7 linked regions of the Homo sapiens genome follow. The protein of the gene in region 1 interacts with the protein of each later gene in a pairwise test. Each region holds a gene or a part of one and is shown in the gene's direction. Other genes may lie near its edges.

The links.
Region 2: the proteins of HTT (region 1) and GOLPH3L interact in binary tests that used the Homo sapiens proteins (3 or more experiments, as listed by UniProt).
Region 3: the proteins of HTT (region 1) and NR1H3 interact in binary tests that used the Homo sapiens proteins (3 or more experiments, as listed by UniProt).
Region 4: the proteins of HTT (region 1) and NAPA interact in binary tests that used the Homo sapiens proteins (3 or more experiments, as listed by UniProt).
Region 5: the proteins of HTT (region 1) and SP3 interact in binary tests that used the Homo sapiens proteins (3 or more experiments, as listed by UniProt).
Region 6: the proteins of HTT (region 1) and SPATA22 interact in binary tests that used the Homo sapiens proteins (3 or more experiments, as listed by UniProt).
Region 7: the proteins of HTT (region 1) and H2BC9 interact in binary tests that used the Homo sapiens proteins (3 or more experiments, as listed by UniProt).

Annotation. Positions count from the first base shown.
Region 1 is NC_000004.12:3,129,896-3,134,429, forward strand, and holds part of HTT (huntingtin), read left to right. Parts: intron 1-28; coding exon 29-152; intron 153-409; coding exon 410-528; intron 529-1,390; coding exon 1,391-1,502; intron 1,503-1,742; coding exon 1,743-1,880; intron 1,881-2,666; coding exon 2,667-2,825; intron 2,826-2,918; coding exon 2,919-3,016; intron 3,017-4,505; coding exon 4,506-4,534.
Region 2 is NC_000001.11:150,658,849-150,663,382, reverse strand, and holds part of GOLPH3L (Golgi phosphoprotein 3-like), read left to right. Parts: intron 1-1,454; coding exon 1,455-1,569; intron 1,570-4,534. UniProt on the Homo sapiens protein: Phosphatidylinositol-4-phosphate-binding protein that may antagonize the action of GOLPH3 which is required for the process of vesicle budding at the Golgi and anterograde transport to the plasma membrane.
Region 3 is NC_000011.10:47,260,363-47,264,896, forward strand, and holds part of NR1H3 (oxysterols receptor LXR-alpha), read left to right. Parts: intron 1-46; coding exon 47-313; intron 314-878; coding exon 879-1,087; intron 1,088-1,184; coding exon 1,185-1,364; intron 1,365-1,556; coding exon 1,557-1,656; intron 1,657-4,534. UniProt on the Homo sapiens protein: Nuclear receptor that exhibits a ligand-dependent transcriptional activation activity.
Region 4 is NC_000019.10:47,486,688-47,491,648, reverse strand, and holds the end of NAPA (alpha-soluble NSF attachment protein), read left to right. Parts: intron 1-792; coding exon 793-861; intron 862-1,887; coding exon 1,888-1,938; intron 1,939-3,259; coding exon 3,260-3,361; 3' UTR 3,362-4,012; downstream 4,013-4,961. UniProt on the Homo sapiens protein: Required for vesicular transport between the endoplasmic reticulum and the Golgi apparatus. Together with GNA12 promotes CDH5 localization to plasma membrane.
Region 5 is NC_000002.12:173,954,826-173,959,359, reverse strand, and holds part of SP3 (transcription factor Sp3), read left to right. Parts: intron 1-3,127; coding exon 3,128-4,487; intron 4,488-4,534. UniProt on the Homo sapiens protein: Transcriptional factor that can act as an activator or repressor depending on isoform and/or post-translational modifications. Binds to GT and GC boxes promoter elements. Competes with SP1 for the GC-box promoters.
Region 6 is NC_000017.11:3,443,899-3,448,432, reverse strand, and holds part of SPATA22 (spermatogenesis-associated protein 22), read left to right. Parts: intron 1-1,831; coding exon 1,832-1,961; intron 1,962-4,534. UniProt on the Homo sapiens protein: Meiosis-specific protein required for homologous recombination in meiosis I.
Region 7 is NC_000006.12:26,249,406-26,252,654, forward strand, and holds H2BC9 (histone H2B type 1-H), read left to right. Parts: upstream 1-2,208; 5' UTR 2,209-2,245; coding exon 2,246-2,626; 3' UTR 2,627-2,670; downstream 2,671-3,249. Other genes in the region: H3C7 (histone H3.1), read right to left, coding at 790-1,200. UniProt on the Homo sapiens protein: Core component of nucleosome. Nucleosomes wrap and compact DNA into chromatin, limiting DNA accessibility to the cellular machineries which require DNA as a template.

The DNA of each region.
Region 1 (4,534 bases):
TTCTCACAGCCCCCCTTGAACCGTTTAGGTGTTAGACGGTACCGACAACCAGTATTTGGGCCTGCAGATTGGACAGCCCCAGGATGAAGATGAGGAAGCCACAGGTATTCTTCCTGATGAAGCCTCGGAGGCCTTCAGGAACTCTTCCATGGGTATGTGGACTACAGGTGATGCGCTACAAAGTGGTTTGTATTCAGACCTGGACATCTTAATTATATCTTTGCTTCCAAGAAGAAGTCCTTTGATACTGTTTTCTGAGTTCTGAATAGCTGATGAAAATGACCAATTGAGGAATAATCATACTTTTTCTTGATCTAAATCTTATACTTTTGAGTTATCTTAGCATAAATGTATAATTGTATTTTAAGTGGAAATTTGTCACTTAATCTTGATTTCTCTGTTTTTAAAGCCCTTCAACAGGCACATTTATTGAAAAACATGAGTCACTGCAGGCAGCCTTCTGACAGCAGTGTTGATAAATTTGTGTTGAGAGATGAAGCTACTGAACCGGGTGATCAAGAAAACAAGGTGAGGGACATAGGCTTGAGACGACTTGGTGTTTCTGAGCTTGTGTGAGGATTTAAAATCGCCCTGGCTACTGTCTACTTTATTGCTTTCCCATCCCTGGGCCTTTAAATTTCCCCTTTAAATACCAGCTCTTCCCAGGCCTGTTGTTTTCTGCCTTTCCAGGTACTACCCACAGCCTTGAGAATTGCCTGAGTTCTGCCTCCTTTGAGAGTGTGCCCCAGACAAATCTATTCTGTACTGAATGTTTCCTTGTCTGATTTCTTGGATCATTCATTTGATGGTTGCGTATGGCCTGCAACGTTTCTTGTTTTGGTTCTACTGAACTGTTCTAAAAGTCTCTCTTCATATTATCTTTTTACATGTAAATGTAACTGTCTTCACTTTTAATTCCTCAAGGACAAGGAATAGCGTTTCACAGTTCGTCCCATCAATCAGAATTATAGCCTTTGGCATCTCCCTATCTACCAGGCCCACTTCCTCTTAGATTTGGGCTTCCCCAGGCTGTTGCCTTTCCCCAAGTAGCTTCTGCTTGTCCTGTAGAAGACCTTTCATGCTTTGCTTCTGCAGCAGCCGTTCCTGAATGCCTAGTGTCAACTGCCTTCTTACCACGCCCACCCTCCCTGCATGCTGCATTTATCCCCTGCCACAGCCCTGTGACCCTGTGTCCTGCTGCCTCTGACTTGTCTGTTTCTGCTTGGCCATGGTCTCTGTGAGGTCAGGTGTGCATATGGGCACAAACCAGGGCATCTCTTTATCCCCAGCACCTGGCTTAAGTGCTGCTCTGGAACTATCTGTTGAATGAACTAATGCATGAATGTATTGTTGAGTATGAGACAAACAAGTGTCATTGTCTCCTTTCTAGCCTTGCCGCATCAAAGGTGACATTGGACAGTCCACTGATGATGACTCTGCACCTCTTGTCCATTGTGTCCGCCTTTTATCTGCTTCGTTTTTGCTAACAGGGGGAAAAAATGGTGAGTACAAAAGGGGATGTGCACAGTTGAAGGAAATAACTAGGTTTCAGAGGTCAGCTTGGTGGCCTGTTTTTGCCTTGCGTGCAGCAGAGGAAGTAGAATCTGAGGATGAGTTTGGTTTTCACTAGCCGAGGGGAGGGAGGAAATGATGGGAGCAGGTAGGTTATTGGGTCTGGTTTTGTTCATTTGAAAACAATCTGTTGTTTGAGGCTGAAGGTGGCTTGGGTGATTTCTTGGCAGTGCTGGTTCCGGACAGGGATGTGAGGGTCAGCGTGAAGGCCCTGGCCCTCAGCTGTGTGGGAGCAGCTGTGGCCCTCCACCCGGAATCTTTCTTCAGCAAACTCTATAAAGTTCCTCTTGACACCACGGAATACCCTGGTATGTTAAAAGTTCACATCTTATTTTCTCAGATTTAATCATTATTGTAAAAACTATTTCAGTATTGACTATTTTAGTTTTAGAGCAGTAAGTGTTTTGAGTTCATTTGGGATATTTGACCTGCGTTGTAGCTCTTCAGAAAACACATGAATAGTGAAGTTCTTTGTTTCATGGGTTCCCTTTAGATGAAACCCATAGAGGAGAAAAGTAGAAACCTCAGCACGTAAGAGCCAACATATATACACATCGGATTTAAACCTAAAGCACAAATTGTGCCTGGTCGCAGTGGCGCTGAGTCGCACTCAGCCAGGCCAGGCATTCACACTCAGGGTGAGTGGGAACCAGGACTGGCTGAGGCAGCAGTGGACCCAAGTCTCCATCGCGCCCATGCTTACTATGGAGCCTTCTCGTTCTCTCTTTTTCTTTGGGTGAGAGGGTACACTTGTGTTTTTGAATTTATATGAGGTAAGTGTGTAATAGGGTTTTTTCTAATCTTTTTTAAGTGGAATCTGGAATTTTAATCAGATTTATTATCTGACAACCTAGAATTATAATCCAGAAAGTCTGTGGTATTGAGGACATATTGGCAATATGATGAATCTCTAATTCTTAAATCCTGAAACTTTTTTTTTTTTAATCACTTAGGGTTATTATAGTGAAGTCATTTCTGAATTTGGATCTTCTCTTCACACCTCTTTTTCTCTTTCCTGAGAATTAAGCTTTTGTTTCGAGTTAGAAAGTTGATAGTAGGGAATTGTTCCATGGCTGAGCAATTTATCTCCACAGAGGAACAGTATGTCTCAGACATCTTGAACTACATCGATCATGGAGACCCACAGGTTCGAGGAGCCACTGCCATTCTCTGTGGGACCCTCATCTGCTCCATCCTCAGCAGGTCCCGCTTCCACGTGGGAGATTGGATGGGCACCATTAGAACCCTCACAGGTAACGGCCAGTTTTTCAGCTGTGTTTTTTCTAGTTATGCTTACTAAGGTTTAAGTTTAGATGATGATGTTTGTTGCTTGTTCTTCTGGTTAGGAAATACATTTTCTTTGGCGGATTGCATTCCTTTGCTGCGGAAAACACTGAAGGATGAGTCTTCTGTTACTTGCAAGTTAGCTTGTACAGCTGTGAGGGTGAGCATAATCTTCTGTGGAACCATTTCTTCACTTAGTGGACATTTTATCATTGCTACAATTAAAATTGGAGCTTAATAGGAAATATTTCCATGCACTCTAAAGCTGTAACCAGTAATACCCACCATGTATCCATCTCTCAGCTTTAGAAAGAAAACGTTGCCAGTAAAGTTAATGCTTCATAAACTTCAGTTTAAGTTCTAATTCTCAGAATATTTGTTTGAAATAGACCTCTTCCTAAAGGATATATTTAGAAATAACCTATCATTAAGTGTAAAGTCTGTTGAATATGCTGGGCACGGTGACTCACACCTGTAATCTGACCACTTTGGGAGGCCAAGGTGGAAGGATTGCTTGAGCCCAGGAGTTCAAGACTATGGGCAACATAGTTGACCCTGTCCCTACAGAAAATTAAAAAAAAAAAAAAAAAAAGTAGCTGGGTATGGTGGTGCATACCTGTAGTCTCAGCTACTCGGGAAGCTGAGGTGGAGGGGGGATTGCTTGAGCCCCAGAGATCAAGGCTGCAGTAAGGCGTGGTTACACCACTGCCCTCTAGCCTGGGCAACAGAGTGAGACTGTCTCAAAAATAATAGTAATAATAATCAGTTGAATTAAAAAAAAAAAAAAAAAAACCACTGTGCTAGGCCCATAGTATGGTAAGAGTTAAAGTGAGCCTTAGGGATTATTTACTCAACCTCTGTTTCTGTATAAAGTGGAATAGGCTCAATTCTTTAAGTGATAGCATGTTGAACCTTTCCATACCAACTGGCTCATAAGTCACAACTGGCCAGTCAACAAGAGTAAAAATTAACTGGTAAAAATCAAAGCAAAAAACCTACAATTGTCAAATTTGTGGGATAACTCCCCCTTTTAAAATGTCATGCCTGACAGTAATTTCTCTCTAGTTTCCAGGTTTTCAGTCAGTTGTGTCTTTTTTGAGCAGAAGGAAGCATGCTAAGAGCTCAATCTTGTGGCTAGCTGGGGGTCTTTGTGTCAGCCATGCATGTGATGGTGCCCCTGGGTGCTTGGGGCTGCAGGGGAGGGGTACAGCAGTAGGGGCCTGTTCTGTTCTCTCGTGCTGTGGAGTACATAGTGACATAGTGGGGTGGTCCTTGGTGTAGGTCCCTTGTTCCTACCCCTGGGTCTGAGATTTATTTAGAAGTGGTGTTGGGGCTGTGCGGCAGGCCCCTCTGTAACTGATCAATGTTTGTGAAGTTGCTGTTTGAGAGTTGAAACCATGACATAAGCAGAAATGGAAGGAAGAAAGAACCAGTTATGTGAAAGGGACACATTTACTTTTAAGCTTGTATTTACTGAGATAAAGTATTCTTAATCAATGTTCTTGAGAGGTGTGGGAAAAATGCAACATCCTGGTTGCAGTTAAACCCAGAACATTGTGTGTTGAAGAGTGACGGTTCTCAAACCGTCAAGACGCGGGTACTGAGTGGGACTAACCTGCTGTCCTCTTGCCTTGGACCTTGTGTTCCAGAACTGTGTCATGAGTCTCTGCAGCAGCAG
Region 2 (4,534 bases), on another chromosome or scaffold:
TGATTAAATTCCTCCTATATCTATAGCTATAACATTATGAAATAGCCGGGCACAGTGGCTCACGCTTGTAATCCCAGCACTTTGAGAGGCCGAGGCGGGCGGATCATGAGGTCAGGCGATTGAGACCATCCTGGCTAACACGGTGAAATCCCATCTCTACGAGAAATATTTAAAAAAAAAATTAGCGGGGCATTGTGGCGGGCGCCTGTAGTCACAGCTACTCGGGAGGCTGAAGCAGGAGAATGGCGTGAACCCGGAAGGTGGAGCTTGCAGTGAGCCAAGATCCCGCCACTGCACTCCAGCCTGGGGGACAGTGCAAGACTCCGTCTCTAAAAAAAAAAAATTACGAAATAGAGTATGATGTAGGGAGAGGGACTCATATGGGTCAGGTCAGTCATTGATTAACCCTGGTTATTCTCCAATAATATTCTGTTTCCTTCCATTTACTGCAAGTCCTTTCCAACCATACTCCTGTATCCATTTTCTTACTGAATTTTTCCACTCACAACTTCTTTATCATCCTAAGCACTCCACTTAAACTACATTCTTAGGTATCACCAGCTTCTTTTCAGTCTTTGATTTATTTTTCTCTTTTAACCTATATGTGTCATTTGACACTTTTTATCACTTTGAAACTTTCTTCATTATTGGCCTTTGTTATTATCTTATTCTCTTGCTTCTCTGACTATACACTGTTTCCTTACTTCTCCATTTCTTAACATCCAAGTCTCAGTTTGTATCACTTGAGTGATCTTCTGTCCTTTCAGAGATATCATTTACCTTTATAGCTTCGTCTGTCACCTTCATGAGATTAATTTTCAAATTTCTAGGCAGGTCTTGTTTTTCCACCTCCAGAAACATATTTAACTATTGGCTAGAAATTTCAACTTGGCTATCCCATATCATTTAAAACCAAACTTAACAAAAATGAAAGAAAACCAAATTATCAACCTTTCCCCAAAACTGACTTCCTTTTCTGACTTTCCTGCCTTTGTTTATTTATTTATTTATTTATTTAAATTTTTATTTTTTTAATAGAGAAAAGATTTTGCCATTTTGCCCAGGCTGGTCTCAAACTCCTGAGCTCAGGTGATCCACCCGCCTCAGCCTCCCAAAGTGCTAAGATTACAGGCATGAGCCACTGAGCCCAGCTGTTTCCTACCTTTATTAATGGTTTCAAAAGTTGGTTTCCAGACTCAAAATGAGTTGTTATTGAAACTTTTCTCCATTATCATTCATATCCAGTTTGTCACTAGGGCCCACTTCAAATGTTATTTTTGTCTTTGCACTATCACTCCATACTATATTTTAAACTTCTTGAGGACAGAGACAGTATATTATGCTTCCTTACATTCTTGCAATTTTTAACCAGTAACATATACATGATATATTGAAAGATTTTAACTTGAATGAAGTGAAGGAATCAGGGTTCCTTCTTTCTCCTTTTCTCAAAGGTACTGCTAAAGTCAGACAGCCCAACAGGTGATGTTTTACTGGATGAAACTCTGAAACACATCAAAGCAACTGAACCCACAGAAACTGTCCAAACATGGATAGAGCTACTCACTGGTAAGATGACTTAAAATAATATATGAATTTCACACTTTGTTATCTTTATCCTACCCTGAAATTTAGTAAAAGATGTACCGAAATTCATCGTGCTGGATGAGATAGATGTGGTTCACTATTTAATTCTAATGAGGGACAGAAAAAGCATGGTTAATTGATACCTAAAGTTTTCCAAAGCTTCACCTTATCTTCTGCCACCCCACCCCAAAAGCCCTTAAATAGTATTCTTCACAAGAAACTTTTAAAACATCTTTATTGAGAGGACAATGAGAATATTGGCATTGATGCAGTCTATTATTCTTATTAGAATTTCCCAGTTTTAATTTGCCAAATAATATTTTATTGCATGGCCATACCACATTTGTTTATCCAGTCATCAGTTGATGAATCTTTGAGTTATTTCCACATTTTGGGTATTGTGAATAATGCTGCTGTGAACACGCACGGACAAGTTTTTGTTTGAACATGTTTTCATTTCTTGTGGGTATGTAGCTAGGAGTAGATAACTGGGTCATATGTAAATCAACGAGTAACATTCTTACTGTGGTAAAATATACATAACATTTATTATTATTATTATTATTTCGAGATGGAGTCTTGCTCTGTCGTCCAGGCTGGAGTACAGTGATGCAATCTCAGCTCACTGCAACCTCTGCCTCCCGGGTTCAAGCAATTCTCCTGCCTCAGCCTCCCAAGTAGCTGGGATTACAGGCACGTGCCACCACGCCTGGCTAATTTTTGTATTCTTAGTAGAGACAGGGTTTCACCATATTGGCCAGGCTTGTCTCGAACTCTTGACTTCGTGATCTGCCCGCCTTGGCCTCCCAAAGTGCTGGGATTACAGGCGTGAGCCACCGCGCCCAGCCAACATTTATTATTATTTTAGCCATTCTTAAGTGTACAATTCTGTGAAATTAAATATATTTGCAATATTTTGTAACCGTCACCTCTATCTATACTATACCCAAAGCTTCCTCATCATTACCCATTAAAACTCTGTACCTATTAAATGATAACTTCCTCTTTCTCTCTCCCCCCAGTCCCTGGCAACCTCTATTCTACTTTCTTTTTCTATGAATTTGCTTACTCTAGGTACCTCATATAAGTAGAATCATACAATATCTGTCATTACTTTCCCTAGCTTATTCACCAAGCATAATGTTTTCAAGGTCCATTCATGTCACAGCATATATCAAAATTTCATTCCTGTTTATGGCTGAGTGATATTCCGTTGTATGTATATAACACTTTCGTTTAACCATTCATCTGTTGATGGACACTTGCCTTGTTTCCACCTTTTGGCTATTGTGAATAATGCTGCTGTGAACATTGATACACAAATATCTGTTCAAGTTCCTGTTTTTAATTCTTTTGGATATATACCTAGGAATAGAATTGCTGGGTCATATAGCAGTTTTATGTTTAACCTTTTGAGAAATCACCAAACATTTCCACAGAGACTGCACCATTTTATATTCCCACCAGTATGCACCAGGGTTCCAATTTGTCCACATGCTGATCACCACTTGTTCTTCTCTTTCTTTTCTTTTTTTTAATTATAGACATCCGAGTAGGCCTAAAATGTTATCTCATTGTGGTTTTGATTTTTATTTTCAAATGAAAATAGTTTTCATGTCATTCCTAATGACTAAAAATATTGAGCATATTTTTATGTGCTTACTGACCATTTATATATCTTCTTTGGAGAAATATAAAATACTTTTCCCATTTTTAAGTTTGATTGTTTTGTTGTTGTTGAGGTTTTTTTGTATTTATTTATGAGATGCGGTCTCACTCTGTCACCCAGGATGGAGTGCCGTGGTGCAATCTCGGCTCACTGCAACCTCTATCTCCCGGGCTCAAGGATCCTCCCACCTCAGCCTCCCAAGTAACTGGGACTATGGGTGCGCACCATCACACCTGGCTAATTTTTTGTGTTTTTGGTGGAGATGGGGTTTTGCTATGTCACCCAGGCTGGTCTCTGAACTCCTGAGCTCAGACAGTCTACCCATCTTGGTCTCCCAAAATGCTGGGATTACAGGCATGAGCCACTGTGCCTGGCCAGAGGTTCTTTATATATATTCTGGATATTAATCTTGCCGAGACCAGCTCAGTTGTGGAGACCCTAACCCAGTGGCGCTAGAGGAATTAAAGACACACACACACAGAAATATAGTGTGGAGTGGGAAATCAGGGGTCTCACAGCCTTCAGAGCTGAGAGCCTTGAACAGAGATTTACCCACATATTTATTGACAGCAAGCCAATCATAAGGTTTACTAAAAGTATTCCTTATGGGAAATAAAGGGATGGGCCGAAATAAAGGGACGGGCTCTGGCTAGTTATCTGCAGCATGAACATGTCCTTAAGGCACGGATCTCTCATGCTATTGTTTGTGGTTTAAGAACACCTTAAGCAGTTTTCCGCCCTGGGTGGGCCAGGTGTTCCTTGCCCTCATTCCAGTAAACCCACAACCTTCCAGCATGGGCATCAAGGCCATCACAAGCATGTCACAGTGCTGCAGAGATTTTGTTTATGGCCAGTTTTGGGGCCAGTTTATGGCCAGATTTTTGAGGCCTATTCCCAACACGTCCCCCTTCTTTGTTTTACAAAGCAATAAAAGCAAAGGCAGCTTTGTCAAGGTGAGCTACTTCTCACAGAAGTCAGGATCCACACCTGCAGACTATACAGAGACAAACAACACAGATTAATAACACAATTATCATTGAAATCAAAGGGCTTCCAAGTGTTTTTATCCATTTTAATGGGTTACTAGCTGTTAATCTGTCTGCAGCTCCTTCAAGCACTCCAGTTCCTGGCATTAAGGTCAGGTGTGCCTGGGATGCTTTAAATATTTGTTCTTTTAATTTTGCAATATCCAAAGACAAGTTTGTAGAGTGTCCTTTTAGATGGTTTTTTATTCTTTCCCAAATTTGGATCTTATTAAGAGCCATTAATAGTTTCCAC
Region 3 (4,534 bases), on another chromosome or scaffold:
ATGTTTTTCCTCGGGGGAGAGCGTTGAAGCACTTTCCTGTATCCAGAGATCCGTCCACAAAAGCGGAAAAAGGGGCCAGCCCCCAAAATGCTGGGGAACGAGCTATGCAGCGTGTGTGGGGACAAGGCCTCGGGCTTCCACTACAATGTTCTGAGCTGCGAGGGCTGCAAGGGATTCTTCCGCCGCAGCGTCATCAAGGGAGCGCACTACATCTGCCACAGTGGCGGCCACTGCCCCATGGACACCTACATGCGTCGCAAGTGCCAGGAGTGTCGGCTTCGCAAATGCCGTCAGGCTGGCATGCGGGAGGAGTGTGAGTTTCTGGGGCTGGAGTGGGGAAGAGGCTGAGGGGAAAGAGGGGGCCAGGGTGTGACCCAAAACAGGTGCCTGAACTTGCAGGGGCTAACTGATCCCTAAGTATGGATCCCAGTATCTTTCTTGACCGGGCGCGGTGGCTCATGCCTGTAATCCCAGCACTTTGGGAGGCCGAAGCGGGTGGATCACCTGAGATCAGAAGTCCGAGACCAGCCTGGCCAACATAGTGAAACCCCGACTCTACTAAAAATACAAAAATTAGCCGGGTGTGGTGGTGAGCGCCTGTAATCCCAGCTACTCAAGAGACTGAGGCAGGAGAATCACTTGAACACGGGAGGTGGAGGTTGCAGTGTGCCAAGATCATGCCACTGCACTCCAGCCTGAGCAAGTGTGAGACTCTGTTTCAAAAAAAAAAAATCTTCTTGCCTTTACCCAGTGCTGTCTGCTTTTCTGGAGCCCCAAACCACCCCCTTTGCCCCATCCTTCCCTCCTGTCTTTCCCCCACCCCCTTGCCCCATCCTTTCCCCATCTGCTCCCTTCCTCATATTTGGCCCTGTCCTTAGGTGTCCTGTCAGAAGAACAGATCCGCCTGAAGAAACTGAAGCGGCAAGAGGAGGAACAGGCTCATGCCACATCCTTGCCCCCCAGGGCTTCCTCACCCCCCCAAATCCTGCCCCAGCTCAGCCCGGAACAACTGGGCATGATCGAGAAGCTCGTCGCTGCCCAGCAACAGTGTAACCGGCGCTCCTTTTCTGACCGGCTTCGAGTCACGGTACTTGACACACCTGGGGAGAGGCGGCTGCGCCCAGATCACCAGTGGGCTTCTTGATGTCCGACTCAAAGCGCTTTGCCTTTTCCCTCCTGGGTAGCCTTGGCCCATGGCACCAGATCCCCATAGCCGGGAGGCCCGTCAGCAGCGCTTTGCCCACTTCACTGAGCTGGCCATCGTCTCTGTGCAGGAGATAGTTGACTTTGCTAAACAGCTACCCGGCTTCCTGCAGCTCAGCCGGGAGGACCAGATTGCCCTGCTGAAGACCTCTGCGATCGAGGTGGCTGGAGAAGGGCAAGGGATGAAGGGAGAAGCAGAGTGGGATTATCTGTGGGAGGGGCCTCCAGACATCGAGCTGGGAGAGCCAAATCTGCTGGGAAGCAGGGATGAGGAGAATCGGCCTCCCTGGAAGAGGCCATGCTCCAAGACCAGCCCTCCTAGTCCCCGTTTGAGGTTTGCTGCTTGTGTGCAGGTGATGCTTCTGGAGACATCTCGGAGGTACAACCCTGGGAGTGAGAGTATCACCTTCCTCAAGGATTTCAGTTATAACCGGGAAGACTTTGCCAAAGCAGGTGAGAACTGAGATCACACAGGGATTGGGGTTGGGTGGACAGATGCTTCTTTTTTTATTTTTTATTTTTAAAAATTGAGGGCCAGGCGCGGTGGCTCATGCCTGTAATCCCAGCACTTTGGGAGGCCGAGGTGGGCAGATCACCAGGTCAGTAGATCAAGACCATTCTGGCTAACACGGTGAAACCCTGTCTCTACTGAAAATACAAAAAATTAGTCAGGCATGGTGGCACGCGCCTGTAGCCCCAGCTACTTGGGAGATCGAGGCAGGAGAATCACTTGAATCTGGGAGGCAGAGGTTGTAGTGAGCCAAGATCGCACCACTGCACTCCAGCCTGGGCAACAACAACAACAACAACAAAAATTGAGATAGAGTCTTACTATGTTGCCCAGGTTGGTCCCAAACTCCTGGCCTCAAGTGATCCTCCTGCCTCTGACTCCCAAAGTGCTGGGATTACAGGCGTGAGCCACCCACCATGCCCGGCCAAGTACTTTTTTTTTGTTTCATTTTTTTTTTTAGACAGAGTTTGCTCTGTCACCCAAGCAGGAGTGCAGTGGCGTGATCTTGGCTCACTACAACCTCCGCCTCCCGGGTTCAAGCAATTCTCCTGCTTCAGCTTCTCAAGTAGCTGGGATTAGGTGCACCACCATGCCCAGCTAATTTTTGTACTTTTAGTAGAGACAGGGTTTTACCATGTTGACCAGGCTGGTCTTGAACTCCTGACCTTAAGTGATCCATGTGCCTCAGCCTCCCAAAATGCTGGGATTACAGGCATGAGCCACTGAACCTGGCCAGGACTGGTGCTTTTTGTCAGAGGCCCATAGTGACTACAGAGCCACAGGCCCAATGTTTGGGTGGCTGGTAAGGGAAGGCTCCCTTGTTTTTTGAAGATAGAAAATTGGAATGCTGATAGGCTTCTCTCAGCTGCTCCAGATAGACCCCTGTCCTCTGTTGCTTTAGGTCAGTGGTTTTCAAACTGTATTCCAAGGAACCTGAGAGATATATGGAATGGCACCTTGGAGGAGAAACAGGGAGGCACAGGAATGTCCTTCATCTTTACTTTAGCCAAACAAGAAGCTCCATTTAAATCTGCATTATATATTGCACTGCTACATAGTATTTTGCTTGCAGATTTTACAGCTTGAAAAAAAAGTTTGAAACTCAGTGCACTCAACTTTTTAGTAGTCAAAAAGTGAACAAATCTTCCTCACATGTGCTCTTTGGGGATCATGGGGGCTGATTTCCCCTACTTTTTTTTTTTTTTTGAGATAAGTTCTTGCTCTGTCACGCAGGCTGAAGTGCAGTGGCATGAACGTGGCTCACTGCAGCCTCAACCACCTGGGCTCCAGTAATCCTCCTGCCTCAGCCCCCAAGTAGGTGGGACTACAGGCATGCACCACCATGCCAGGCTAATTTTTATATTTTTTTGTAGAGAGTGGGTTTCGCCATGTTGCCCAGGCTGGTCTCAAAATGGTCTCGAACTCCTGAGCTCAAGTGATCCACCCACCTCGGCCTCCCAATGTGCTGGGATTACAGGCATGAGCCACCACACACAGCCTCCCCTACTCTTTTTCTTTTTTTTTCTTTTCTTTTTTTTTTTTTTTGAGATGGATTCTCACTCTGTTGCCAGGCTGGAGTGCAGTGACGCGATCTTGGCTCACTGCAACTTCTGCCTCCCGGATTCAAACGATTCCCCTGCCTCAGCCTCCTGAGTAGCTGGGACTACAGGCGCGCGCCACTACGCTCAGCTAACTTTTGTATTTTTAGTAGAGATGGGGTTTCACTGTTTTGCCCAGGCTGGTCTTGAACTCCTGAGCTCAGGCAATCCGCCCGCCTTGGCCTCCCAAAGTCCTGGGATTACAGCCATGAGCCACTTGTCCAGGCCCCTCCCCTACTCTTTTTCAATTGCACTTTCTGACGAACCAGAACCATGGCATGGCAAACATGCCCAGAGAGGATGTACAATAAGAGCGAATGCTTCCATCTCCATCCTATATCTGAAGTATTTTCTCCAAAAATTAGTTCATTCTGCGGCTCTCTATCTGATGCTCGCTTGGGAGCTACGCAGAAGGGGTTTCTTCATATTCAACTATTGATAATGTTTGTATCATGAGAACTGGCCTGGGAAAGGACGGGAGGCTGAGGGAGTTTTGGAGGGACTGGAATTGAGCTTCAGCAGGAAACCAAGTAGCTTAACGACTGGATGAGTGGGGCTGTAAAATATGGCTGATGCCCTGACTCCACTCTCAGGGCTGGTAGATCTGTGGCCAGGCCAGTCATCAAGCCTTCCTTGGTTTCTGATAACTCAGGCCAGCTCACGTGCCTCTTGCTCTCCCAACGCAGTCCACCCAGTGAGCTTTCTAGGAAGGCCACTCTTCGCTGTAGGGCATAACAGGGCTATGTTGGCACCTTTTGCCTTCTATAGTAACCGGTGTGCTGCCTGGATGTATTGACACCTAATGGGGTGATTTAATGACTTTATCCAGCTTTAAAGCCCAGCCCTGCTCCCCTCTTCCAAACCACTTTTTCCTCGATGGTTATTATCTCAGACCTTCTTAACCGTGGCTCTCCCCTCCTTCAGAATATCCTCCTTGTGGAACCCTGCCCAGTTCTAAGATCTTTGTATTCCTTTGGCACTTGTAGACTCATGCTATCTGAATCTGCACCTATTCATAGATTTATTTATACAAGCAGTTTTGAAGTAATCATGCTTGCATTTCTTATTTCATGAGTGAGGTCTTGGGGAGAAGGAACAGGAGCTCTGCTTGTCAAGTCTCCTCCCCTCCCTATCCGCTACTATTTACTGCATGCAGTAGATAACTGGTGACATGGACTGAGCACATTTGAGGTGTTCATTCCGTGGGCATCAGCAGACCCTC
Region 4 (4,961 bases), on another chromosome or scaffold:
GCAGCCCCAGTGTTCCAGATCTTTGTGACTCCTGCTGTCGTGGCTTTAGCTGTAGCTCACACATGCCCACCTATTTTCAGGACACTTGGCAAAAGAGGGGCCAAAGAGGGCAGTGGGAGGGGGCGTGGCCAGCGGGAAGGAGCTGGAGGGTTGGCGCTAGATTTTGCTTGGCCGGAGTTTTTTTACCATTGCCTGGCAGAAGCACGGAGTCCAGGATTTCCTGGTGTCCCTGGCTCACGGCCTGGGGTGGTGGCCCCACACACCCCACACACACACACCCCACAGAGCCCTGCCCTGCTGTGGGCACCGGTGGTGGGCAAAAGCTTGGGCTTTGTCAGACCAGGTTCCCATTCCCACCCCATGTCTCACCGTGCCCTGGGCAGGTCACTGCCCCTCTCTGGATCTGTTTCCTCACTTTGAAAAGGGGGCTCACCGTCATTTGACCCTCTCAGGGTCCTCAAGAAGCACCAGCCCCAGGCCTGGCATGGAGGATGTGCTCATTTGTCCCCTGCCCCAGCTGAGCCAGGTGGGAGGAGGCAGTGGGTGCCTATCTGGGGAACCTTCCCCCTCCACCCACCTCTCCCTGCAGCCATCTCTGCAGCCAGGCTGGTGCTGAGCTCAGCTACGGGAAGGTACTGACAGACACAGAGCCAGGTGACACCTGAGGCTGGGGGAGGGGTGCAAGAGCTGACTCAATATCACCCGACATCCCCAAGTCCCCTCAGCTGCTAGGCCAGTAGCTCTGAGGACCCTCTTGTTACTAACTCATCTTCTCCCTTCCCTGCTGCCCAGCTGGCTGTCCAAAAGTATGAGGAGCTGTTCCCAGCTTTCTCTGATTCCCGGGAATGCAAGTTGATGAAAGTAAGTGCTGGGTGCTCCGGCCTCCCCCTTCCCGAACCTCAGACGGGGGTGGCTGGGGCTCCAGGTGGGACAATCGCCAAGACTTGTCCAGTAGTTCTCAGAGGGTGTCTTTGTTTTGTTTTGTTTTGTTTTGTTTTGTTTGGCCATTTGAGTCTCCATTTTCCAGATGAAGAAAGTACAACTCGGGGAGTGCTGGAGCTCAGGATGGCTAGGTGGACACACACACACACACTACACACACCACACCACACCACACACACCAAACATACACTACACACACCACACCACACACATCACACCACACCACACACACCAAACATACACTACACACACCACACCACACACATCACACCACACCACACACATCACACCACACGCTACACACACACCACCCCACACACCCCACACACACTACACACACACCACACACAGCAAACACATCACACACCACACATATCGCACACACACTACACACACACGACACACCCCTCACACAAAACACATTGCACAGTACACACACCACACGACACACCCCCCCACACACAAAACACACTGCACACACACCACACATGACACACCCCACACACACACATTGCACACACACTACACACACCACACACACCCCACACACACACCGAACACACCACACACGCAACTCAACACACACCAAACACCACACGTGCCCCTACACACCACACCCCAACACACACACCACACACACACACACCTCCACCACACACCACACCCAACACACACACCCCCCATACCCACACACACACACATTCTGTGTGATGTTCTATGTTGGTAAGGTTGCCCTGAGAGCAAGCCGTTTCTGATGAATAGGGCAGCAGGATCGCAACACGCCCGTACCCATCCCCAGTTTAACCCACACGGATTGACCCTCTGAGAGTCCTCAGGAAGCCCCAGCCCCAGGCCTGGCATACAGATAGCGTGTCCTTTCATCTAATCCAGGCCAGACCTCAGGTCAGCATAGGCCCCTGACCCCTCTCTGCCATTTGCTTGCAGAAATTGCTAGAGGCCCACGAGGAGCAGAATGTGGACAGCTACACCGAGTCGGTGAGTGGCCAGCATGGGGGGCCAGGCCCCTTCACGGGGATGGGTCTCCTAGGAAAGCTGCCCTTCTCAGACACGCTCTCCATGACATTCACCCATTTCATCTGGCCCCCAGCCCACTGTGAAGTTCTTTCTCCAGTCACCCCAGAAACCTTACAAGTAGCGCCAAGAGGCGCAGGGAGTGTTCTCCCCATTTTATAGATGGTGGCACTGAGGTTGGGGAGGTCAGGAGGCTCGGCCTTGGCCCCTCAGGGACAGAGCTGGTGTTCAGAGCCACATCTGTCTGCCTCTGAAGACCAGGGTTCCTTGAGTCCCCCAGGTGAGTGTGTGAGACTCACAGTGGGCGCCTTGGGCACCCAGGAGGCACAGACGGGGAGGGAAGGGGTGAGAAGGAGAGTGGAGCTGAGGACATGGGAGAGGTGCCAGCTTCCCTCTGCCTGGTGGAGCCGCCCACGCGGCTCTCTCTCCCTTCCCTTTCTCTGTTCCCAGCATTCCCGGGCTTAGTGGTGTCCGGCTCAGGTCCTGATTCACTCCTCTAATGGCACATGTCAAGCATTTCTCCCTAGGTGCCCCTTGGGAATGGAAGCCCCTAACTGAGGACAGTGAAAATGCCATCCTGTTCCTCCTGCCCCAGACAGTGGGTGGCAACTCAGCCAGGAGCTCAGGGAGGGGATGCCCAGCAGGCCGTGGCTTCTCTCCCCCGTGTCCCATGGCACTCAGGAGTGGCCTTTTCCATATCTCCAGGCCTCAGTTTCCCACCCATTCAGTGAGGATGCTGGACTTTTTTTTTTTTTTTTGAGACGGAGTCTCGCTCTGTCGCCCAGGCTGGAGTGCAGTGGCGTGATCTCGGCTCACTGCAAGCCCCGCCTCCCGGGTTCACGCCATTCTCCTGCCTCAGCCTCCCGAGTAGCTGGGACTACAGGCGCCCACCACCACGCCTGGCTAATTTTTTGTATTTTTAGTAGAGACGGGGTTTCACTGTTAGCCAGGATGGTCTCAATCTCCTGACCTCGTGATCCGCCCGCCTCAGCCTCCCAAAGTGCTGGTATTACAGGCGTGAGCTACTGCGCCCAGCCATGGACCTTTTTTTTTTTTTAAAGCTACAATATCTTTCTCCCCCAAGGGAAATGATGTGCCCAGCATAGTCAAGACAGACAAGAGGGAGCTCCCATGGCTGAGTTGGGGCCTCAAGCCCTCCCTCTACTCCTCCTCAGAGACCAGGGGTGACAGAGACAGATCTTGAAAACCTTGGGACAAGTGCCCTTGGGCTGCAGGGTTGGGAACGGGGGGAGCATGGCCAGCCTATCACCTGGTGTGCCCTCAGGTGAAGGAATACGACTCCATCTCCCGGCTGGACCAGTGGCTCACCACCATGCTGCTGCGCATCAAGAAGACCATCCAGGGCGATGAGGAGGACCTGCGCTAAGCCCCACCCAGCCCCCCAGTGCCCGTCTTCCTGTCCCATCTGCTCAGAGAGAGGTGGGGCCGAGACTTGCTGGAGAGCTTCCCTCCTTTCCCATCTGGGGAGTGCCGCGGGCCACAGTGGGCAGGTGGCACCGGGGGTCAGCATGCAGGGGCGCCAGAGGCCCAGGCTGCTGGCCGGACAGTCACCCTCTGTTCTCGCTACATCCCTTGCCCCCTGTCCATTTATTTAAGCCCCCATAGGTGCCCTTCACCCCCAAAACCAGCTGTACAGAATCTTTGATACAGACCTATTTGCTAGGGGTGCTGCCGGGGATTTGGGGTCAGCATCTGGCCCCCTATCTCCTGACCAGCTGAGTCATGAGGCCGGTTTCTCTCTCTCTCCCACTTTTGTCCCCCAGCCAAGCTCTAAAGCACATGTAGCCGCTGAGACCTGCTGTTTCTGCTGGGGGCAGGCTCCTCTTCCCCCAGCCCCGGGAGCCTCCCCCAGCTTCCTGCAGCCCCGACCTCTCAGGTTAGACCCTGGGCCCTGGAGCTTAGGGGATTCTCCCCACCCCAGCCCCACACCTGCTCCTTCCCTAATGCTTTGAGGTTTTCTTGGTTGGAAGCTGCAGCTGGCCCAAGAAAGAAAATAAAAAACAACACTTTTGCATGAGTCTCTCTTCCTCCTCACCTCTGCTACCCACTCTGCCCCTGGGCCAGTCACCAGTCCCTCTCACACTCCTGGTCCCCCAGACTCTGGGCGAGCTCTTGGGAGGTCAGGCGCATGCATCCTTGAAACACGTGTGGGCTGGGTCAGTTTCTAGGTGGGGGAGACCCAGGGACGGTGGGCCTGGGGAGGAGCTCTGGCTTGGGAGTCCCAGAGCGCCCATCTTGATCTTTCTCTGGGTTCTTGGGGTCCAGGGGCCTTGATTTCCTCAACTGGGATGCACGGTGGTGATGCCACCCCTCAGAGCCAGTGGGAGGGTCGAATGTGACGGTCCTCATGACTGCTTTGGATGAGAATGGGTGGAAGCCCACCGAATCTCCCATGTCCACATTTCTCTGGCAGGAAGGCTGAACGCCCCGGTGACAGTTGTTCCATCTGTCACAGGACGGGGGAGGAAGCGGCTTTGGTGGGCAGAGTCTGAGGCCCGAGTGGGTCTGGGGAGTGGGGGAGGAGATAGCAGGAGCCTTTGCCCAGGAAAGGTGGGCAGAAACCAGCTGCCTCCACCACACTCCACAATGTGCATGTTGGGGGCCCTGTCTGGTACACATGTGCTTTACCCTGCCCCGCGCAGGGCCCCTCGCTACAGAGGAGACAGCTGAAGGAGGCTCAGTGCCCAGGCATGATGGGAAAATGTCAGGAAGTGAGCAGGGGCAGTAATTGCACAGAGGAGGGGCTGCCTAGGAAACCAGGGTGGACTCCTGGGAGAGGGGCTCCAGCCCAGAAAGCCTAGAGAAGTGCAGGTGAGGTTCAAATTCCTTGACACCTGCCCTGCTCCTCTCTCCCCTGCAGCTTCTCCCACAGCTCCAGTCCACTGATAATGGCAGCAAAGACTTCTGAGACCTGAAATTGATTACCATGTCTGCCCCCATCATGGGTGCTGGCTGAAGGATAGTGT
Region 5 (4,534 bases), on another chromosome or scaffold:
TTTTTTTTTTTGGTCTCAGATGATTTTCTAATTTATTCCTCTCCCATTTGGTATTTAGTGTACTTTATCTCTTTTAGTGGTATATTGCTGATGAAATTTCTTTTACAAAGAAATTTGATTGTGCTTTGCAAGGCTTTGTAGTTTTGAAATATTTGGAGCTGATTCATTGTGGAATTGTGGAAATAAATAGGCTTAAAATTGGTTTAGACTTTTTCATAGAAGGCTCTTAATACCTCAAAATTTGTTTTGATCCATTCTGTCATTGTGTTTGCAATGATTTTAAAGTAAAATAACTTTTCATTCAGTAAATATATATTGATCTTACTGAGTGCCAGGAATTGTGCTAGGCTAATTTTAATGGATGTTTTTCAAATCTATTCTCATAATCTTAGCACTCACAATGATCTTGGGATTGCACAGTGCTCAATAGTTTATAAAATTTAATATTTTTCTTCTGATTCTTATGCCCCTGCAAGGTAATGTTTTTCCGGTTGTTGACATGAGAAAATTGAGTTGCTGTAACTCACACAATTCCACAGTGTAGCCAGAACTAGAACTCAGTTCTGAGCTTTTTTTTTTTTCTTGTGTAATATATTGTCGAGTGTAGTTTTGGCATAAATCATCTAGTAGTTTTCTGATTCAATGTGTTTTTTCCATTCCATTTAGAAAATAGGGTATTCAGCAAATTTTTTTAAAACTGCAAATTTATTAAATTAAAAAAGTTCCTTTTCTTGCTTGATTCTTTTCCTTAAATTACCTGTTGCTTTTTTTTTTTTTCCCCCATCGTTGTGCTTCACAGGTATTTTAATAATGCTTTTCATTTCAGGCTTATTCAGAAAAGTTCGGAATACATCACTTTGCTCTAGGTTTAGAGATTTTCCTTCAATTAATGGCCTGAATTGCTGAGAAAAATGGCACTACAGTTTATTTTTATCTAGCTTCTGGAGAGGGGATGACTTGGGCAATATTTACTCAGATTTGTCATTTGCGTTAGCTGTATTTATTTTCAAGGAATTTCTTGACTAGAAAGCTGTTCAGTGATGGTTGAATATCTGCCTTTATTACTATTTTGTAAAAAAAAAAAAAAAACACTTTAGGTGCTGTAAATTTGACTTTGTTTTTTTTAAAGAAAGGAAAAGGGACAAAATGCCAGTATCATAAAATTAATTTGTGTCTGAGTTACTATATTCTTTGATAAAAGTTCAATACCTGTAAATTTTATGCTGGTCAGAAAAAATTTCAGTGGATCCTCCAGGTGAGCAATAACCTTAAGAAGATAAAGGTTAGATTTTAGACACACTTTAGTGTAGATTTTAGTATATAGATTTAAATATTTGTAGTTTACTTAAAATGCCAAGAGACCGAAATGAAACATTTGTCACTGTAATGTTAGGAAAGGTGACTTAACATTGTAATTTCTATACCAGATTGAAGTTGCAGAGTGACATGTGACTTTAATGTCTGATGCTTCATTTTAAAATTGTTTAGTAAATATAATTTAAGTGTATTTAAGACAGATCGCTATTTTATAGTTCAGGCCTAGAGATTTGTATTGGGTTCCACAATTTCTCAGCCTTTAGTCTCCTCCCTTTCTTTCAGTCTCCTTCATTGAGCCTTAGTTTATCTTTATAAGACACAGATGTGATTGCACCACTCACTTGCTTATAAACCTTTTATAGCTTTCACTCACTATCTACAGGATAAAGTCTAAACAATTTAGTGGGATCTGTGAAGCCATTTACAAGCGTTGATAAAAATATCTAGTCCTGTTCCCCATTACTTTCCTCTATGAATATGAGCCTTTTTGGGATCTTTTCTTCAACTCCAAACTGCATATTATTATTTAGGGTTTCTTTTTGTGATTTTATTGTTTCTATGCTTTTATTAGTGCCTCTTTTTTAACTGACTACAGGAAAATCTTATATTCTAATACTACTTTATCTCTGTATGAAATCTTTTTTTTCAATCTTGTGTCTTCCACAGAGTGTTTTGATCATATGACTAGTCTGTGCTACTTTTCACATTGTATTAGCATGGATGTGTGTATGTCTGCTTGGATTGACAGTGAACCGTTTGAAGATTGGGATTGTATGTCATGGGTTTACTCACGTGTGTATTTCATCTTGGTAAATTACGTTCAAATGTTTGAATTCAGTCATTTAACTGTGGTTCATCCACTGAAATAACTGTATATATTTCTCAACTATGTCTTCATGAAAATTAGGTAGTGAGTTTCTTTAAGAAACTTAAGATTTTTTTGTTTATCATATTTGCATTAAGTTTTATAGAATGGTTTATGTTGAGAGAACTGTGTATGTCTCAACTGATTTTTATGGTCCCATTGAGATTCCCATTGAGAATATAATGAAACCCTAGATTATCTTTCTCTCCCTCAAATTGTATTAATACACCAGAATACAAAAGGTATATGCCAGACATTCTACTGAAAACTTAGACTAGTAAGTAAAGTCACAGTGTGTATCCTCCAGCTTCTGATCCTAGAGAAACCTTTCAAATGGGGCTACGTTGTCATGTGGTCACAGGGCAATGACTTTTTCTCATTAAGTTTTTTTAAGGTCTTTGTTTTTCATTAGTTCATGGAAAAAGTAGAGTTTGATAGCTTAATGGAATAGCCCTAGCCATGAGTTTACTTTAGAGTATGTTAATAGATGCCACAAAAGAGTAGATTTCATTGTTTGATTTTAGGCTTATAGCAATAAATCTTTTCTAAGTCGGATGACTTAATACACTATGCTTATGTTTCCTTTTTATACACAAATATAATGCACCTGATTTGGTCATAGCCATCTCCACTGTTTTGTTTTGTGTTTTAACTGTGTAGTGTTAGAGATCATAGATGCAGGATTAGAAAATTGGTCTGTGGTTGTGATGAACATTCCGAGAATTTTTTTTATCCCACTCAAATAGGATGAATTGTCTTTGCAGTAACAAAACTGGAAGTGATAATTATTGTAGTTCATATAGTACTGCTCCTGTATTTGAACTCCATTGTGTTTTAAGATAAGTTGAATTTTCAGGTAGTAGGATTTATACCAGTTTTTAGAATTTTTTGAGGGTTGATTTAAATATACCACAAATATATCACCTTTTTGTTTTCTTCATCCAGACAGGTGATTTGGCTTCTGCACAGTTAGGAGGAGCACCAAACCGATGGGAGGTTTTGTCAGCCACACCTACAACTATAAAAGATGAAGCTGGTAATCTAGTCCAGATTCCAAGTGCTGCTACTTCAAGTGGGCAGTATGTTCTTCCCCTTCAGAATTTGCAGAATCAACAAATATTTTCCGTTGCACCAGGATCAGATTCATCAAATGGTACAGTGTCCAGTGTTCAATATCAAGTGATACCACAGATCCAGTCAGCAGATGGTCAGCAGGTTCAAATTGGTTTCACAGGCTCTTCAGATAATGGGGGTATAAATCAAGAAAGCAGTCAAATTCAGATCATTCCTGGCTCTAATCAAACCTTACTTGCCTCTGGAACACCTTCTGCTAACATCCAGAATCTCATACCACAGACTGGTCAAGTCCAGGTTCAGGGAGTTGCAATTGGTGGTTCATCTTTTCCTGGTCAAACCCAAGTAGTTGCTAATGTGCCTCTTGGTCTGCCAGGAAATATTACGTTTGTACCAATCAATAGTGTCGATCTAGATTCTTTGGGACTCTCGGGCAGTTCTCAGACAATGACTGCAGGCATTAATGCCGACGGACATTTGATAAACACAGGACAAGCTATGGATAGTTCAGACAATTCAGAAAGGACTGGTGAGCGGGTTTCTCCTGATATTAATGAAACTAATACTGATACAGATTTATTTGTGCCAACATCCTCTTCATCACAGTTGCCTGTTACGATAGATAGTACAGGTATATTACAACAAAACACAAATAGCTTGACTACATCTAGTGGGCAGGTTCATTCTTCAGATCTTCAGGGAAATTATATCCAGTCGCCTGTTTCTGAAGAGACACAGGCACAGAATATTCAGGTTTCTACAGCACAGCCTGTTGTACAGCATCTACAACTTCAAGAGTCTCAGCAGCCAACCAGTCAAGCCCAAATTGTGCAAGGTATTACACCACAGACAATCCATGGTGTGCAAGCCAGTGGTCAAAATATATCACAACAGGCTTTGCAAAATCTTCAGTTGCAGCTGAATCCTGGAACCTTTTTAATTCAGGCACAGACAGTGACCCCTTCTGGACAGGTAACTTGGCAAACGTTTCAAGTACAAGGGGTCCAGAACTTGCAGAATTTGCAAATACAGAATACTGCTGCCCAACAAATAACTTTGACGCCTGTTCAAACCCTCACACTTGGTCAAGTTGCGGCAGGTGGAGCCTTCACTTCAACTCCAGTTAGTCTAAGCACTGGTCAGTTGCCAAATCTACAAACAGTTACAGTGAACTCTATAGATTCTGCTGGTATACAGCTACATCCAGGAGAGAATGCTGACAGTCCTGCAGGTGAGTCTTAAGTTATGTCATGCCATAAATAAGTTCAGTGATAATAC
Region 6 (4,534 bases), on another chromosome or scaffold:
TTTTTGGCTTTATGGGCCGTACTGTCTCTGTTGCAGCTACTCAGCAATACTACTCAACTCTGCCACTGTAGCTTGGAAGCAGCCATAAGCAATACATAAATGAATGGACACTGCTCTCCTCCAACAAATGTTTACACAAATAGATAGCAGGTTAGATTTGCACTGCAGGCCATAGTTTTCTTTATGATCAACTTATTATGACCTTTGCTTTATGATCTTGTCCTAGTCTACCTTTGTAGCCTCATATTTCATAGTCTACTAATTGTCCAATGCTCTAGCCACTTCAGACTCGTCACAATTCTCTAAACATAGCATACACTCTGTGCTTTGGTTTATATTCTTCCCTATACCTGTATCTCAACTGTACTTCCTCTCTACGCTCAGTGCTCTGATTGCTCTTTGTAAATGTTATTTATATATTATGTGTGCTGGTTATTCCTCATCTCTGCTCCCTGGCCCCTTGGCCCACTTGATTCTTCACCTGCCCTTCTCTGTTGTGGAAGGCTGAACTGTCCTATGTAGTGCATCATCCTGAGATTGTTTACTTGCTGGCTTTTGCTAGAGGTCAGCCAGTAGGAGTCACTGGTACGACATCATAGGGTGGGAGGAAAGGTTGGGTTTTCTCACTTTCTCCTGTCTTAAATGTTACATCACCAGCAGTGGCTGTGTCACTGCATGATGTAGCCCCTTCATGAGTATAGCTTTCCTGGGCGTGATACTTTTATTTTCTCCTCTTGTCCTTTCAGCCTAGGAATGGTAACAACTTCTTACAGTTGTTAGTTTTTGTTCTGCCCTTATGTCTGAAAAAGCAATCTTTTCAAAAAGCCATCGGGGTAAAATTTGTTTTTGCATGTTTTGTTTTTTGTTGGAAATAAGATTAATAAAGCATGTTTCACAGTGGTTCTCAATCTTATGTTTCCTTGTACTCAAGAATTATATGACATAATCACCTTAGTAACAGTGGTTTACTGTGGCCATCATCAACAGGAGGCATGTTAGAATCTTCGTTAAGCGGGGGAAGAGGGAAGAAACTACCTGTATTTTGAAAAAAGGTCCCATCATATGTTCTTCACAACCCTCACCCTCACAAAGGAAAGCGTCCCCTTGCCTTTGAAAATTAGTATTTTAACACACTGTATTCTTAGTTGATCTTCAAAAATGCTAAGAACATTTCCATCTCAGGGCTTTTATACTTGCTGTTCCCACTGTCCTCATTCAACAACCCACTTAAAATAATAACCCCCATCTCTCTCTCTTTCCATTTACCTTGTGTGTTTTTTTCCTAAAAAAAAAGTACATTTCCTGACATTCTGTTATATGTTTACTTATTTTTTAAATCCTCCACTAGACAATAAAATCTTCGAGGACAGATATCTTGACTGTTTTGTCCATGAATTTTTCCTAAATAGCTATGTTTGGCATGTAGTAGGTGCTCAGTAAACACTTTTGAAACGAATGAATGAATGAATGTGTCTGGCTCCTTCCCTAGAGTCCCCTAGAGTGTGAGTGCACTAGGGAAAGGAATGGCCTTACCTATATTTGTCACAGGATCTGGCATATGATGCTTTAAAATAGTCAATGAATGAATGAGTGAATGAATACCTATATAAATAATTCTCCTCTTGATTGTCTCTAAGTGCACCCTGGTTTCTCCATCTGTAATATAGTATTGATGGCCTTATTTTAGGGAAGTAACTATACTAAAATTTTCAGTAGTTCTTTTTACACACTTGTCCATTGTAAGGACTTAGAATTTTTACGTAGAAGGTAAACGAGTATGATGAAAAAAACAAATATTTTTCTAATACTATGTTTCTTATTTTTTCAAAAGGAAACCTCATTGTATCAGTTACAGTTTAAGGAAAAAGCTAGTTCTTTAAGAATTATTTCTGCAGTTATTGAAAGCATGAAGTATTGGCGTGAACATGCACAGAAAACTGTACTTCTTTTTGAAGTATTAGGTAGGTAAAATACTTTAAAAATACTTCAGTAATACTCTCTGGAGGACAGGTTTTAATGTCTGATTAGTCCTTTTTCTTCCAAATAAAACAGTCTGCTTTTTGCTACTCCCTAAAGTGTATTCAAAGAACTGGTTTTAATAATAGTCCCTGTGGTAGATAGAATAATGCTCCCTAAAAATGTCTACATTCTAATTACCAGAATAATGCACCCTAAAATGCCTACATTCTAATTACCAAAACCTGTGAATGCTACCTTATATGGCAAAAGAGACTTTGCAGATGTAATTAAGTTAGGGATCTTGAAATGGGAAGATTATCTTGTATTATTTGGGTGGGTTCAATGTAATCACAAGGGTCCCTTATACAAGGAAAGCATTGAAAGATGCTACCTTGCTGGCTTTGAAGATGGAGGAAGGGGCCATGAGCCAAAGAATGCAGGCATCTTTGAGAAGTTGGAAAAATTAAGGAAATAGATTTTACTCTAGAGCCTCCAAAAGGAACATGGCTTTGATGACTCATTATAGACTTCTGACCTCCGTAACTATTAAGATAATGCTTTTGTGTTGTTTTAAGCCAACCACTAAGTTTGTGGTAATTTGTAAGCAGCAATGGGAAACTGATACAGCCTCCTCCTTTTCCTTTTGTCCTGTTATATATATATATGTAAATATAAATGTGTGTATATATAGATGTAGATTTCTATCAGTGCAGTCATTTCACATGTTTAACTTTCACCTAAAAATGATTCCAGTTTCTCTCTTGTTACCATTAAGGAAAAAGCTTTATTATATAAAGTGACATTGGATTCAATAGAGACTCAGACTTTGAGTAAAGCACGCTGTATTCATTTTCAATTGCTGCGTAACAAAGTAATGGAAACTTAGCAGCTAAAAACCACACCCACTTCTTAACTCAAGTTTTGTAGATCAGAAGTCCATGTGGGCTTGACTGCGTTCTATACTCAGGGTATCACAGTGCTAAAATCAAGGTGTTGGCTGGGCTGGTTTTGTTCAGTTTTCGTTTTTGGCTTTTTGGAGGTTTCCATGCCTCTGGCCTCTGGAACTCCCATATACTTCAGGGATTCTTTATCAAGTCCTACTCATGTTGCTTGAAGCATATCTCTTAGCTGGTTGGCATGACTGTTACTACTCTGTTGAAGCTTGACTTAGCTCTTATTTTGTTCAGTTCTTACCAGTAGCCACGTAACTGCAATAGCAGATGGTATTCTATTTCATGTCAGTTTTCTGTCAGAGCTAGAATACTGTCAGAGGTAGAACATCTTATTTCAAAGATCTTAACCCCTGTTGGACTTCCCACTAAATTGCTTTTTCCTGTGTGAAAGATGCCTTTGGCTCTCACCTCATTTACAGAATATAAATATTAAAATAACCTGAGCCTATTAAAAGGACATGCTGATTCCATTCATTTCCCCAGGTTCTCTTTGGTGAGTTGTTCAGGTTCACTCCAGAATAATCCTTTTAAGAATATCACAATACTCATTATAAACACCAATAGACATTCTTATCAAGAAATGAAGGGGGTCCATGCTTTTATATGTGATGGTTAGCTTTCATAGTGCTATAATAATCCTGAGTTCCTAGGCTAGACTCTAAACTTATCAAAGGTAGATACTTCATTTTACTACACTTTAGTGTCTAGCACACTGCACTGTATATAGGAAGTATCTTCCAGTTGCAAGCACCCCCCAGAAAAAAACAACTTTAGTGGATTTTAAATACTCATTTATATTGCTATGTATAATATTGTGTTGCATAGAGAATTATTCACGCAACTGAAAAGTGGCTAGGTTTCTGACTTCAGGCAAAGCTTGATCTAGCTGCTCAAGAGATGGCACAGTGATTTCTCTCCATCCTTCTGGCCAGTCATAACGTTGGCTTCATCTTAAGGCTCCACACTATAGTCTCTCCAGAAGCTTCTGACTCTCTCCTTATGGTAGCAAGTTGATTATTAAATTTTTGTAGACTATACATTCTTATACCACACCGTCATATTCTTAGATTTTTCTTCTGATTGCTCTTTCCTACAAACTAACAAATGAGTCTTTGCATATAACCATTTCTGACTTGGTAACATGCCTATTGCAGAAACCCTGAACTACGTAGTTGAGTAATAAAATATGCTGATTGGATTAAGTCAGTCACAGTTCACTCGTGGATCTGGGGATGGGGACAAATCCTATCCAAATAATATGGCTAAAAATGGAATTTTCCTGAAGGATAATCTGGGTCTTTTTAGCAGAAATGGAGGCCAGCCTCAAAATAACAAATGCCCACTACCAGTACTCAGTAGATGGTTATTAAATAAATGAATAATGCTGTCACTTCATAATAGTTTCTTGAGATAAACATGAATTACAATTTGCGTTTTATAGGTGAAGAAACAGATTTGAAAGTGGTTAAACAATTTACTCAAGGAGGAGGGAATAGGGAGATGTAGGTCAAAGGGTACAAACTTGCAATTATGTAGGATGAGTAAGTCTAGAGACTTAATGCACAGAGGAGGTCTATAGTTAATATTATTGTATTGTATATTAAAATTTTGGTAAGAGTAGA
Region 7 (3,249 bases), on another chromosome or scaffold:
TGCAATAATATTTCCTTGAACCCCGTTTTCCCTGAGCATAGTGTACAGCTTCACCTGCACCTCGGGGTTTTAATTGGAAGGCTCCCATGCCAAGTAAAATTTGTATTATATTAACTTGTATCCGTTTCTCCTGTTGATGTCTCAAATGAACTCTCAGGGCAAGCCAAAAAGAATAATAATGATTTAACTCCCCATACTGTCACAAATAAAGCTTTCGTACACTTTTGTCAACAAGTTGTTTCCTTTGTCCCTGTAGTTTTGGTTTTGCCTCAGCACACAACCATTTTCTGTTTTGTTGTTTTGAGACAGGGTTTCGCTGTCACCCATGGAGGAGTGGAGTGGCGCGATCTCGGCTTACTTCAACGGCTGCCTCCCAGGTCCAAGCGATTCTCCTTCCTCAGCCCCCGATATAGCTGGGACTGCAGGAGGGCGCCACCACACCCGTATTTTTGTTTTTTGGTTTTGTACTTTTAGTGAAGACGGGTTTTCACTATGTTAGGCAGACTAGTCTCGAATTCCTGACCTTTGTATAAGTAACCCGCCCTCCTCGGGCTCCCACAGTACTGGGATTACAAGGCGTGAGCCGCCACTATCGGCCATTTTGAAGACAATGGCCAAGACACAAAAGCCTAGTTTAGAAGAGCCACCGGCCCTGCCCCCATCCCCTAACCCTCCACCCTCCTTGTTTTAGGAGACATTACTCCCTAGTGCTACGGCGCTTTCAACTGAAATTGTTGGTGGCTCTGAAAAGAGCCTTTGGTTTAAGTTGGCGCACACCCTCAGTACAACTTATGCCCTCTCTCCGCGAATGCGGCGAGCGAGCTGGATGTCCTTGGGCATGATAGTCACTCGCTTGGCGTGGATAGCACACAGGTTGGTGTCCTCAAAGAGCCCCACCAGGTAAGCCTCGCAGGCCTCCTGCAGCGCCATCACAGCCGAGCTCTGGAAGCGCAGGTCGGTCTTGAAGTCCTGCGCGATCTCACGTACCAGACGCTGGAATGGTAGCTTGCGAATCAGTAGCTCAGTCGATTTCTGATAGCGGCGGATTTCACGGAGGGCGACAGTACCAGGCCTGTAGCGGTGGGGCTTCTTCACGCCACCGGTGGCTGGCGCGCTTTTGCGAGCCGCCTTAGTGGCCAGCTGCTTGCGCGGGGCTTTGCCGCCAGTGGACTTACGAGCTGTTTGCTTCGTGCGTGCCATAGGAATGGGTTTCAAGCAATGGTCACAACTGAACAAACAGTTGTTCTTACTCCTATTTATAAAGGCAAAGTCCTTCTGATTGGTCCGAATCTTCCAGTTTCGCGCCCTGAATTATGTAGTGTGATAGGACTTGTGATCAGCTACTAGGTCTCATTTTAGAAAATCTTAACCTATCTAAATGCTTTTTTCCCCTAGTTCCTTACATTTTATTATGTTTTATGTGCCTACCTGTATTACGTACCTTCATTGATTTTATTTTAATCAGTTTGTTTGGGATTATGTTTGACAGACGGAAATGAACGTTCTGCAGTTCCGGAGCGATTCAAAAATACCGCGTTTGAGAGTGATTGGTCCAGCTCAATGTCTCCTTTATATTTTTTAAAAAACTCTTACTTTGAAGAAATATTTTATTTTTAATATAAGTACCCTATTTCATATATTCTGAACCTTTCAACAAACACTGGTTTCACTTCCAGACACTCCGTTCCTAGGGGATATTAAAATCCCATCGCTCTTGAGATGTGTTCATCCTTTGATTACTGAAAAAGCTTAAATTTTTATGTAAGAATGCTAATGACCTTGATCAGATTATAAAAGAAAGCCAATGGTATAATTCTGGAAACACGTAAATCTTTAGCTAATTTCCATTTTAGAATTAGTTATTCATAGATAATTTTAAATCCGGAAGCTGCAATTTGGTAGGAAACTAGAAACATAATATCCGTCTTTGTTTCTGTTTAAATTCTCACCTAAGGAGACAGAACTTATAGGTAGATGTTACTGGCAAGGCATTAGTTTTTCTAATGTTTTGAATGAAAAACTACGTTTTTTCCCCCGGGAGGTGTAGAAAAGGATTTAGGGTAGGTTTCGCATAAATATCCAATCAAAAAGTAGACTTGAATTTAACTTTTTTATTGGCTGATTTGGTCCAATCAGGGATTGAGAATGATTAAGCACCTATTTGCATAAAAGACCTACAAAAACGGCCAGCTGTGCTGTTGAGCCTTCACTTTGGGGTGTATTCTTACTCCTTTATCTTGTTGCAATGCCTGATCCAGCTAAGTCCGCTCCCGCCCCGAAGAAGGGCTCCAAGAAGGCGGTGACCAAGGCGCAGAAGAAGGATGGCAAGAAGCGTAAACGCAGCCGCAAGGAGAGCTACTCCGTATACGTTTACAAGGTGCTGAAGCAAGTCCACCCCGACACCGGCATCTCCTCCAAAGCCATGGGGATCATGAATTCCTTTGTCAACGATATCTTCGAGCGCATCGCCGGCGAGGCTTCCCGCCTGGCTCATTACAACAAGCGTTCGACCATCACCTCCAGGGAGATCCAGACAGCCGTGCGCCTGCTGCTGCCTGGGGAACTGGCCAAGCACGCCGTGTCCGAGGGCACTAAGGCCGTCACCAAGTACACCAGCTCCAAATAAATGGACGCATGTTCAAACCCAAAGGCTCTTTTCAGAGCCACTTAATGATTTCAATTAAGAGTTTTAATGCTGGGTGCTGCTGTATTCTATGGGAGAAGTGTCGCCAATACAGGTAAAATTTTCCTACATCACCTGTTTATTCTGTGCGTTTGACAAACACTAAGCTTTTAGAGTTTATTTGTCTTTATAAAGGTGGGGTACAACTACATTGTTCAGGCTGGTCTTAAACTCAAGCGCTGGTCTTAAACTCAAGCAAGTTTTCCCACCTCGGCCTTGCCTTGTATTACTGAGCAGATAATTTGACACAGCAGGAAAAGTGGGCATTCTTGTTTAGGAACCAAAAACTAAGTTTGCAACTTAAAATGCAATCAATTTGGAGCAACACGTCCACCAGTCTAGAGCTGGTAAGTTTGAGTATTCAAAATGAGTTGAAAGTACATTTAGTGCCTATAATAACCCACTCTAGATAGCATAATGTGGTCTTTGTAGGAGTCTCGTGGAAGTTAATGTTAACTGGGATATTGTAGTTTACCAAGTACCTGAGAAAAATTTAAATTTCTTAATAGATAAGGATTAGGAGACAAACTTTATGGAAATGAAAACAAAATGCCATGCAATAAACC